Linked DNA regions of Homo sapiens. The protein of the gene in region 2 purifies or fractionates together with the protein of the main gene of each other region. This does not show direct contact. Each region holds a gene or a part of one and is shown on either strand. Other genes may lie near its edges.

Region 1 (3,650 bases), on a different chromosome or scaffold from region 2:
AGTGGTTGCAGTGAGCCAAGATTGCGCCACCACACTCCTCCCTGGGTGACAGAGCGAGACTCCATCTCCAAAACGAAAAACAAACAAAAGGCACGATCATAGCTCACTGCAGCCTCAACCTCCCATGCTCGAGTGATCCTCCCGACTGAGCCTCCCAAGTAGCTGGCACTACAGGCACACGACTCCATGCCCGGCTAACTTTTTAAATTTTTCATAGAGACAAGGTCTCACTATGTTGCCCAGGCTGGTCTCCAACTCCTGTTCTCGAGTGATCGTCCTGCCTTGGCCTCCCAAAGCCCTGGGATGACAGGGATGAGCCACAGCACCCAGCCACTGTTGAGATTCTTGAACAACAAGGAATTAGAAACTCCGGGATGGGCTCGTGGAGAGGCAGACCCCACAGCGGCATATTCCCAGGTGAAGGAAGAGTGCCTAGCACACACTGCAATCCTCCTTGAGCCCCCACAGAGAGGGAGGTGTCACCCAGAGCTGTCCCTCCCCAAGGAGAGCTCTGAGGAAAGCAGCAGCTGGACCTCCATCTAGGGGCAGGCTCTGTTATCTCGGCTTCATGTCATCGCCTCCCCTGCCTCCCCTGCCTCCCAAGAAACTTCGCATCCTTGTCTTGCGTCTGTCTCGGCTTCCCATGACACCATCGCACAAACAGTGACAGCCACGCAACACCGGCACCCGCGAGAGAGTGGATGGGACGACTGTGGGGTCAGGGAGGACCCCTGAGGGCTTCTCCAATACAACGGAGCTGACCCATCCCCTTGTAAGGTTTTTCCCGCAGTGGGAGGTGGGCACTTAAGATGGAATGGGAGCCCCAACCTCTGGCGGTTGCCATGGTAACCTGCCAGGAAGGGAGGCCTTGAAACCGGGAGGGGAGGCCTAGAAACCGACATACTCTTCCCTGGTAAGTGTAGGGGAGGGGTCTGGAGAAGATTTGGGGTGAGGGGAGCTGCAAAAGGAGCTGAATTTCTAATGCCCTGGGGGTGCTTTTAGATGGCTCACATGCCTGGCATTAAACTCCAGGAGGTCCAACTGAAAACTTGTTCCTATATTAATTATCTTTCCTTCCGGGGACAACATCTCAGCTTGGGGCCGGTGTGTCTCTAAGCGCCTCTGGAAGGGCTCAACACATGCAGGCCTGAGTCCAGCCTAGCTGGCTGGGCTTTCACTATGTTTATTTCCATGGGATTTCCTATTGATTGCAAGAGAGAGACCTGCTTTCCATGTAAGGTAGTGAATTGCCTTTTAAAATTTATCTACAAAGCTTCTTTACAAAGTTGCCTTTTAATATTTACTGAGGTTCAACAAAGTCAGTCCAAGCAGGAGGTTTAAAAAAAAAAGCACAGGGAAAGGGTGGACAATGCCAGCCCGGCTGGCTGATTTCTCATCACTGCCCTCTGCATCATGGGGTAGCGTCTGCTTCGGGGCCCCCGGGATGAATAAAGTGAGTTTCAAGGCCCTCCCCTCCTCCTTACCAGGATGAGCTCCTTGGCTCTAGGCAGCGGTGAGCCAAGGCTAGAGGCCAAGGAGGCTGGACTGTCCACCAGGTCCCGACGGGCAGGAATGCAGATGGGTACCTTTCCGCAGGGGGTGGTAGCCGGGCTGGGGGGCTCTGAGGGTTGGTCCTGGGTTTGAGGAGGTGACGTTGAGCAGAGTTGAAATGAGAGGGAAAGAAGAGTCCCTTCTCTATCCTCCTCCCGACTCCCACCCCAATCTCTAGAATGGGTACCCATGACCCACCATGGGAAGATTATGAAATCTTCTGCTGCCTCAGTTTACTCATCTGTAAAATGTATTTTTTTTTTTTTTGAGTCTCGCTCCGTTACCCAGGCTGGAGTAATGGCCCACTGCAACCTCCGCCTCCTGGGTTCAAGCGAGCACATCCAGCTAATTTTTTTGTATTTTTAGTAGAGACAAGGTTTCACCATGTTGGTCAGGCTGGTCTCAAACTCCTGACCTCAAGTGATCCATTCGCCTCAGCCTCCCAAAGTGCTGGGATCACAGGTGTGAGCCACCACGCCCGGCCTGTAAAATGGGTTTAATGATAGGCTCTACTCCATAAGCACCCATAGCGAGGACTATATAAAGGCTTGGTTTTATTTTCCCATTGAACAGATGGGGAAAAGTGAGGCCAGGGAAGGGGGTGTCACTGCCCACAAATCACTCAGTGAACCTGGGCTTGAAGTCACTCCCTGTGCAGTGGAGAGGAGGTCGGCCAGAGGTGTCCCGGAGTCCCTGACGCTTCCTGACCCCATCCCAGCTGTCCCACAGAGCGGGGAACCAGGATCCCCACTACCTCTGGGTCCTCCCAGTCCAGAAAACCCACCCCTTGCTCTGTGCCCAGAGTCGGGGAAGAGGCTGGACCCCTGGACTCACCTCGTCCACCACCAGATTGTAATCACTCTTGTCTTCGTCGCTTTCCTGGGGGAAGATGGGGGAGAGAGCTCATTGTGGTCATGCCCCTGCCTCCACACCCCCTATCCGCTCCTCAGGAGTTGGAGGCATGAGCCCAGCCAGCCCTGGGGCATGACTGGGATTCTCAGACCACTGCACCCGTTTGCTCATAGCAGAAGGGAAGGCTGCACGTGCCCGCATCCGGGAAGGATGTGGGGAGGCAGGGCAGGTGGGCACCTTGTGGAGAGGACTTTGAAGGATGTGGACTACATGAGTGCCCTGTGTGACTCCCGGCCCTCTCAGGCCTCAGTTTACCCCTCTGCATGGTGAGGGGAGAGCCAGAGACCAGCAATCATCCTTACCGCCTTCATAAAGACTCCGCCTTAATAAATAAATAAATAAAATTCATTGCCAAAGAAAATAAGACTCCACCTTAATAAATAAATAAATAAATAAATAAAATTCATTGCCAAAAAAAAAAAAAAAAAGCTATTAGGTAAAAAGGAAGATTTAAGGCTTCTCTGAGAAACAGCAATATTGGCCCACCCTGAGCCTGCCAGTCTCCGGGGATCAAGTTGCAGCTGCCCCTGTAGGTGGGAGAAGGGGCTCCCCAGCTGGCCACAGCCCCATTCCCCACATTCGGCCTGGCCCCTGGGATGCTAGAGTTGGAAACTACAAGTGTGCAGCCGTCTGGCAATGAGAGGAGGTCCCAGCCTCTAGGAGGTGGTCAGGGAAGGCTTCTTGTAGGAGGTGGCACTTTGTTTCTTGATAGAAAAATGGGTTTCTAAAACATGTGTGTTCTAGGGAAAGAAAACAGCTGGAGCAAAAGCTAGAGGGTGGGAAAATGGCTGTACGGCCAAGAGGCCGCAGAGACTTCAAGCAACTGGAGTTAAGCCTTGCATTACAGGATCTCCTCTGATTGGTCAGTACTCTGAGTAGTAGGGAGCTATGGGAGGCTCCGGAGTGAGAGAATTATGGCCAGAGCTGGGCTCTGGAAGGCTCTGAGGGGCCAGGCTGGTCTGGGCCATGCACGCCCATCCCAGTCCTGCACCTGCCCCCACTCACATAAGGTCCTGATGGCTCCTTCTCATCTGCTCTCTGCTTCCCGCCACCACCAGGGCCACTCGGTCGCTCCTCCTCCACGAGACTCTCAGGGGGCGAGGGAGATGCACTCTGCGGAGAGACAAAGGCCGGGGGGAGAAAGGGTCAGGGCCCTGGGCTCCTAGATTGCATTGTGATCCAGCCGA
Region 2 (3,650 bases):
GCACCACTGCACTCCAGCCTGGGCAACAGAGTGAGACTCTGTCTCAAAAAAAAAAAAAAAAGTTTTATTGGAAATTATTTAAGAACACAGTGAAATTATCATGCGTAAAAAATGGATGTTAAAAATGGGTATTAAGGCCGGGCGCGGTGGCTCACGCCTGTAATCCCAGCACTTTGGGGGGCCGAAGCAGGTGGATCACGAGGTCAGGAGATTGAGACCATCCTGGCTAACACGGTGAAACCCCGTCTCTACTAAAAAAATATATAAAAAATTAGCCAGGCGTGGTGGCGGGCGCCTGTAGTCCCAGCTACTCAGGAAGCTGAGGCAGGAGAATGGCATGAACCCGGGAGGTGGAGTTTGCAGTGAGCCGAGACCGCACCATTGCACTCCAGCCTGGGTGACAGAGCGAGACTCTGTCTCAAAAAACAAAACAAAACAAAAAAACAACAAGAAAAAAAAACAGGTATTAAAATGTTTATGGTCCCAGCCTTGTGCTACAGATGTATGCATGTTTGTGAAAGGATGACAGGGAACTTAACAAAGGGTAAGAGTGATTACAGCTATGCAGTAGGATTCAATATTTCAAACTTTTCTGCTCTTTCTCCCTTTCCCCAGTTTTTTAAAATGACTATGCACAATTCTATAACTGGGAAAAAAATCACTACGCATTAGAGGGAGCCACACTGACCATGAGAGAAGCCTGGACTCAGCACTCCACAGGCCTGCTTCAGGAAGCTCTGGACCTCCCCATTCCTGCAGCTGCCCCTTCCCAGCAGGGCGACCTTCCTGAGAAGTACTGACTTCCTCTGGTTCAAAGCCAAGTCTCTCTGGTTTCCAGGTCTGCTTAGACACCCTTGGGGACTAGAACCCAGTTCATTTATTTGTCCAAACATGACAAACAATAAGATGGAAGCCACAGTTCCAAGCTCAAGGAGCTCAGAGCCCGGTCAATAGATGGATTAGGAGACAGTGTGGGTGTAGCACAGCTGAGGTACATGCACATGTGACAGGAGGGCCTGGCCCAGGTTGCAGGGGGCAGGGGAGTAAGGTGGGGGTGAAGGCTGGTTCCTGGCGGCCAAGAGGCAAATGCAGTGGCAGAAAGGCATGAACATGGCCATTCACTATGGCCCTTTACAGTGTGAGGTCAGGTCTTGCTCACCAAGCTAAAGGGGCTGGATTTTATCCTCAAGGCAGTGGGGAGCCACTGAATGATTTTAAGTTGGGTGGAGGCTGGGCATGGTGGCTCCCGCCTGTAATCCCAGCACTTTGGGAGGCCAAGGTGTATGGATCACCTGAAGTCAGGAGTTTGAGACCAGCCCGGGCAACATGGTGAAACCCCGTCTCTAATCAGCTGGGTGTGGTGGCGGGAGCCTGTAACCCCAGCTACTCGGGAGGCTGAGGCAGGAGAATTGCTTGAACTGGGAAGGTGGGGGCTGCAGTGAGCCGAGATCACGCCACTGCACTCCAGCCTGGGTGACAGAACAAAACTCCTTCTCAAAAAAAAAAAAAAAAGTCGAGTAGAGACCCACTAATGTCACTCTAAGCCTCCAAAAGTCTCTCCAGCTGTGGGGGTAGAGAGCAGACCTGAGGGGGCAAGATGGGAAGTCGAGATGCCAGATAGGAGTGATCTGAAGCTGTGAGACAAGAGTGAATATGGGCTCAGTCCAAGAGGGGGCTGGAAATGAGAGGGAGAGAATGAAGCAGGTCTGGGGAGCCTTAGGATGGACTCAGTAACCCATTAGGTTCCTGAGGAAGAGAGGAGTCGAGGCTGAGTCCTCGGGCGCCGTGTACTTGCTGGGCATTGGTCAGGGCAGAGCACAGGTGGAAAATCCATGTCAGCTGGGCATGGGTGGCTGTGGTGATGCTGGCCAACAGTCAGCTGGCTATGTTCTCTGTTGAGATCACAGCACTGCGTGTGGAACAGGGAGAAGAGAGGGGGCAACCCTGGAGGATGACAGCCCTGATTGAGGGAAGGGAGTGGGAAACAGCCAGTGAGGGGTGACGTGAAGGACAAGGGAGGGAAAGGAGGCTGTCATTGGTGGTCTCAGCCCAGCAGAGGCCAGGCAGGCTGGGAACTGGGGGGCCACTGGGGCCTCTGCTGGAACCACCTGGTGAGCCCGTAAGGGGAGGCCCCCACCCCAGGGTCTCCAGCACCTGCCTGGCTCCCCATAGATACTCAACAAATGTGACCGAGGAAGGAATCGAAGGGTAGGGGGTAAAGGGGTGCCCACGGCCCCCTCCCTGGGCCTCAAGTAAGGGAGCAGTGCCCCAGGTACCAGACCCATCCAGCCCTGGAGGGGAAGCATGTGCAGGGCTAAAGGTGGCGGCCAGACCCTCAGGACCAAGGTCGGGTGCTGTCCGTTGGAGGGTCTGCCTCAGACCCCCTGCTAGAGGAGTCCCGGGGTAGATGGAGCCTCCTCTGGCTCAGGGAACACCTAAAGCAGCCTGGAGCATTTGCTGAGAGACAGCGCCACCTAGTGGGCAGGAGGTGCACGCCAGGCCATTACCCACAGGCTCCAGGCCTTTGGGGTTCATTATGGCAGTCTCTGCACCCTGCTCTGGCCCCCGCATCCTGCCCCAGTCCCTGGAGACAACAATCCAGGGCTTCTTCCACCTAAGCAGTGTCTGAGCCTCTGACAGCAGGATCCTGCAGCATCAGCTGAGATTGGCTCTGCGATGGAGAAGGTGGGCAGGTGAGATTTTAACAGAGATCCATTTGCCCACATGGCACAGGCAGATGCAGGGTCCTGCCCTCACATGGGTAAGCCCAGTATGGGACTGGGCTGATTGCAGTTCTGCTGTTATTGTTGTTGTGTTTGTTTGTGGTGTCGTTAGGCTCGCAAAGAAAATAAATATGCTTATGAAACTCTTCCAGACATGGCTGACCCCTCCCCTCTCCACTCCCAGTCCACAGAATTCTCAGAACCTCCTGCAGCTCAGGTCTGTGTGGCTCAGGCCCCGGCAGCCAGGTTAGAGGTATCTTTATGGAGGTAGGGGCAGTCCACAGGGCGCCCCAGCAGCAGGGAGTGACTCCCACCACCTATTCCGCAACGATTCCCTGGGGTCTTCCCTGGCTCCAGCTTCAGCTCCAGAAGACCCCTCCCCGGAGAAAGAAGTAGCTGTGGACAGACACCACCCACCCAGAAGGGCCTGGACTCCACGGCCCACACAGTTGGTCACAGCTGCCAGCTTGCTCCTACTGCTCAGCAGTTTCAGGGCAAGGTCAACAGCTAAGTGGGGTCACTGACCTTCCTCAACAACTTGGCAGAGCTCATTTTTATTCTTAACTGTGGGTTCGGCTAGGCAAGAGTTCTCCTAAAAATATTTTTTTTAACTTTCCCTTATGACAAAGAAACAAATGTACAATGTTAAAATATTAGTTTTACAAAAATGTGTGACTTGGAAAGTTAAAGTTTCTTATATAGTCCTATCCCCTAACAATTATTATTATTATTATTTTTTGAGACAGAGTCTAGCTCTGTTGCCCAGGCTGGAGTAAAGTGGTGTGATCTTGGCTCATCGCAAGCTCCGCCTCCCAGATTCAAGCGGTTCTCCTGCCTTAATCTCCCAAGTAGCTGGGTAGCTGGGACTACTGGCACCTGCCACCATGCTCAGCTAATTTTTGTATTTTTAATAGAGACAGGATGTTG
Region 3 (3,650 bases), on a different chromosome or scaffold from region 2:
AATCACACCTTCCACAGGCATCATGGTTTTATGAACTCATAGAGTAGGGGTTGGCATTCTTTCTGTAAATGGCCAAACAGTAATTATTTTAGGCTTTATAGGCCATATGGTCTCTGCCTTCTACAACTGCTCACTCGGCCATGGCAGCAAAGAAGTAGCTATACAAAATTCATAAACAAATGGGTACAGCTGTGTTCCAATAAAACTTTATTTACAAGAATAGGGGGCAAACTGGATTGACTCTCAGAACAGTTTGCCAACCCCTTTCTACAGCAGTGTTTTCTAAATTATGTGTCATGACCCATTGGTAGGTTAATTTTTTTATTTTTTATTTTTTTATTTTCTTTTATTTTAATAGAGACACAGTCTTGCTATGTTGCCCAGGCTGGTCTCCAACTCCTGGGTTCAAGGGATCCACCTGCCTTGGCCTCCCAAAATGCATGCTGGGATTATAGGTGTGAGCCACCTTACCTGGCTTAGTATGTTAAATTCAACTTAGTAAGATGCAGTTGGCATTTAGAAAATATTGGAGTGGAGGCTGGGCTTGGTGGCTCACGCCTGTAATCCTAGCACTTTGGGAGGCCGAGGCAGGTGGTTCACTTGATGCCAGGAGTTTGAGAACAGCCTGGCCAACATGGCGAAACCCCGTCTCTACTAAAAATACAAAAAATTAGCCGGGCGTAGTGGCGGGCGCCTGTAGTCCCAGGTACTTGGGAGGCTGAGGCAGGAGAATGGCGTGAACCCGGGAGGCGGAGCTTGCAGTGAGCCGAGATCCCGCCACTGCACTCCAGCCTGGGCGACAGAGCGAGACTCCGTCTCAAAAAAAAAAAAAAAAATTAGCTGGGTCTCGTTGTGCACACCTGTGATCCCAGCTACTCGGGAGGCTGAGGCACGAGAATTGCTAGAGCCTAGGAGGTGGAGGTTGCAGTGATTGTGCCACTGCACTCTAGCCTGGGTGACACAGCAAGACTGTTTAAAAAAAAACAAAAAACAAAACAAAACAAAAAACTCGAGTAAAGCACATGAAGCCTTTAGTATTGAGTCTGGAAGACAGTTTCAGTTATATACACATATAAGTATATAATATGTTCAAGGTCATGATGTAAAATATATATTTTTAAAATTTTATAGATGGGGTTTCAGTATGTTGCCCAGGCTTGTCTCAAACGATCTTTCCACCTCAGCCTCCCAAAGTGTTGGGATTACAGGTGTGAGCCACTGTGCCCAGACTTAAATATATTTCTTATGTGGATTGTGGTCAAAAAAATTTAGTAACACTAATTCAGAGAACAGATGTTGAGAGTCAGATAGTACAGATAATAAAAAACAAGCTGAGTGCAGTGGCTCACACCTGCAATCCCAGCACTTAGGGAGTCTGTGGTGGGAGGATCATTTGAGCCCAGGAGTTTGAGGAGACCAGCCTGGGCAAGACAGCAAGACCCTGTCTCTACAATAAAATACAAACATATGCAAAAATACGGATTCAATGCTAGCAATTATTAGGACACAAACAAAAATATGATGTTTTTAAGGAAGTTTTCCTATGTAAGGTACTTAATTTGAAACTGATTTTAGGGGAAAGCAGGTTCTACTTAACACGGAGATGACGGAATAAAAGGAACTACCATTTAAAAATTATGACTGCCTCTTACAGAGAAATATCAATTAACTTGGTTCAAAGTGCTAACAAATACTCGGGAGGCTGAGGCTGGAGGACTGCTTGAGGCCAGGAGTACAAAGTTACAGTGAGTTAGGATTGCAACACTGCACTCCAGACTGGGTGACAGAGCAAGACCCTGTCTCAACCAATCTATCTATCTATCTATATATATAGATTGAGACGGAGTTTTGCTCTTGTTGCCCAGGCTGGAGTGCAATGGCGCAATCTCGGCTCACTGCAGCCTTCGCCTCCCAGGTTCAAGTAATTCTCCTGCCTCATCCTCCCGAGTAGCTGGGATTACAGGCATGCACCACCACATCCGGCTAATTTTGTATTTTCAGTAGAGACGGGGTTTCTCCATGTTGGTCAGGCTGGTCTCGAACTCCCGACCTCAGGTGATCCACCTGCCTCGGCCTCCCAAAGTGCTGCGATTACAGGCGTGAGCCACTGTGCCCGGCCTTAATTTTTTAAAAAAGGAATGCACATTTTTTGCTTCCTTCCCTGCCTTCCACATATGGAATCTATGGGGTACTGTATATCACTAGAGGTCAATTAAAAACTAACTTTGAAGGAGCAGTGGTGGGAACAGGTAGGTGGCTGGGGAGTGGCATAAACCTTTACCATTGTTTTCGCAAATCTGGGGTGTTCAGAATGGCAGCAGCAATCCGGGCCCCATTGAGGGGAGGGTTGGAATACATGGGACGGATCAAGATCTTCAACTGTGACTCTACCCTTTTGGCTTCATCCGCATCTTTGCAGACCATAGTGAAGGCTCCTACACGCTCACCTGAAAGACAAAAATGGATCTCGTCTTCTACTTCTACTATCTAATGTGCTAAAGCAAATCATGAGTGTATTTGCTACGTATTATCTGTTTCCATCCAAAGGACCCCAAAATAACTTTATTATAAATAAAAAGCTTTCAACAACCAGAGTGGTGAACTGAGGCACAAGGAAGTTTTGAGTACTCAGAGTATTCAAAGGTATTTTTTATTGTATCTATCTTCTTGGCTCACGGATTTGTTACTTTTTGTTTAGAGAAGCAGTAATCAGTTTCCTTTGCTGGAAAAACTTAAGGACACCGAAGAATATATGGCTAAGAAAATCAGTAAAATCTACGATACTGGTCTTTCATCTTAGGGTAGGGAGGGACATGGACATGGATGGACACACACACACACACACACACACACACACCCACAAGCTCTATGCCCTCGTGGCATTCTCTCCCAGCATGAGAGCATGTGTCATGCTGGATGCTGTAGCTTACCATATAAGCCCATGTTCTTGGCATATGATTGGCAGAGGCAAACATTAATGCCCTGTTCGATGAAGTGGCGCACAGCCCAGGCATCCTTATCACCATCACCACTGGCAAAGCCTTGGTAGGCCATGTCAAAGAACGCAAAGAGATTCCTTTTCTGAGAAGGAACGAAAGATCGAAGCTTTAGCAGTCTTTCTGAAGAGGCCCCAGATGTTTATAAAAGTCTGAAAGATGTTTATGTGAGGTGGGCATGGTCCCAATAAGCACAATAAGCCTTTTCTGGGGCTAACGTAATCCTGGAAGACTCAACTTATACCCAGGACTCACGAGACAACATCATTAGAACCATTTTATCTTGAAAGTGCTCTCCAAATGCTGTTTCTGTCTCATTCTGTTTGCAGCTTAGATTTGACAGAAGTTAAAGAAAGGGAAACTGGCCAGGCATGGTGGCCCATGTCTATAATCCCAGCACTTTGGGAGGCCAAGGTGGGAGGATCACTTGAGCCCAGGAGTTTGAGATCAGCCTGGGCAACAAAGTGAGATGCTGTCTCTGTGAAAAATAGGAAGAATTAGCCAGGCAGGTGTGGCACACATGTCTGTAGTCCCAGCTACTCAGGGGCTGAGGTAGGAGGATTGTTTGAGCCCTGGAGGTAGAGGCTGCTGTGAGCTGTGACTGTGCCACTGCGTTCTGGCTTAAGGCGACAGAGTGAGACTCTGTCTCAAAAG

The links.
Region 1: the proteins of CTNNBIP1 (region 2) and TLE2 purify together in Homo sapiens (co-immunoprecipitation; one large-scale study listed by IntAct). This does not show direct contact.
Region 3: the proteins of CTNNBIP1 (region 2) and GOT2 purify together in Homo sapiens (affinity purification with mass spectrometry; one large-scale study listed by BioGRID and IntAct). This does not show direct contact.

Annotation. Positions count from the first base shown.
Region 1 is NC_000019.10:3,012,185-3,015,834, forward strand, and holds part of TLE2 (transducin-like enhancer protein 2), read right to left. Parts: intron 3,577-3,650; coding exon 3,469-3,576; intron 2,431-3,468; coding exon 2,386-2,430; intron 1,635-2,385; coding exon 1,485-1,634; intron 1-1,484.
Region 2 is NC_000001.11:9,865,184-9,868,833, forward strand, and holds part of CTNNBIP1 (beta-catenin-interacting protein 1), read right to left. Parts: intron 1-3,650. UniProt on the Homo sapiens protein: Prevents the interaction between CTNNB1 and TCF family members, and acts as a negative regulator of the Wnt signaling pathway.
Region 3 is NC_000016.10:58,713,733-58,717,382, forward strand, and holds part of GOT2 (aspartate aminotransferase, mitochondrial isoform 1 precursor), read right to left. Parts: intron 3,082-3,650; coding exon 2,931-3,081; intron 2,448-2,930; coding exon 2,282-2,447; intron 1-2,281. UniProt on the Homo sapiens protein: Catalyzes the irreversible transamination of the L-tryptophan metabolite L-kynurenine to form kynurenic acid (KA). As a member of the malate-aspartate shuttle, it has a key role in the intracellular NAD(H) redox balance.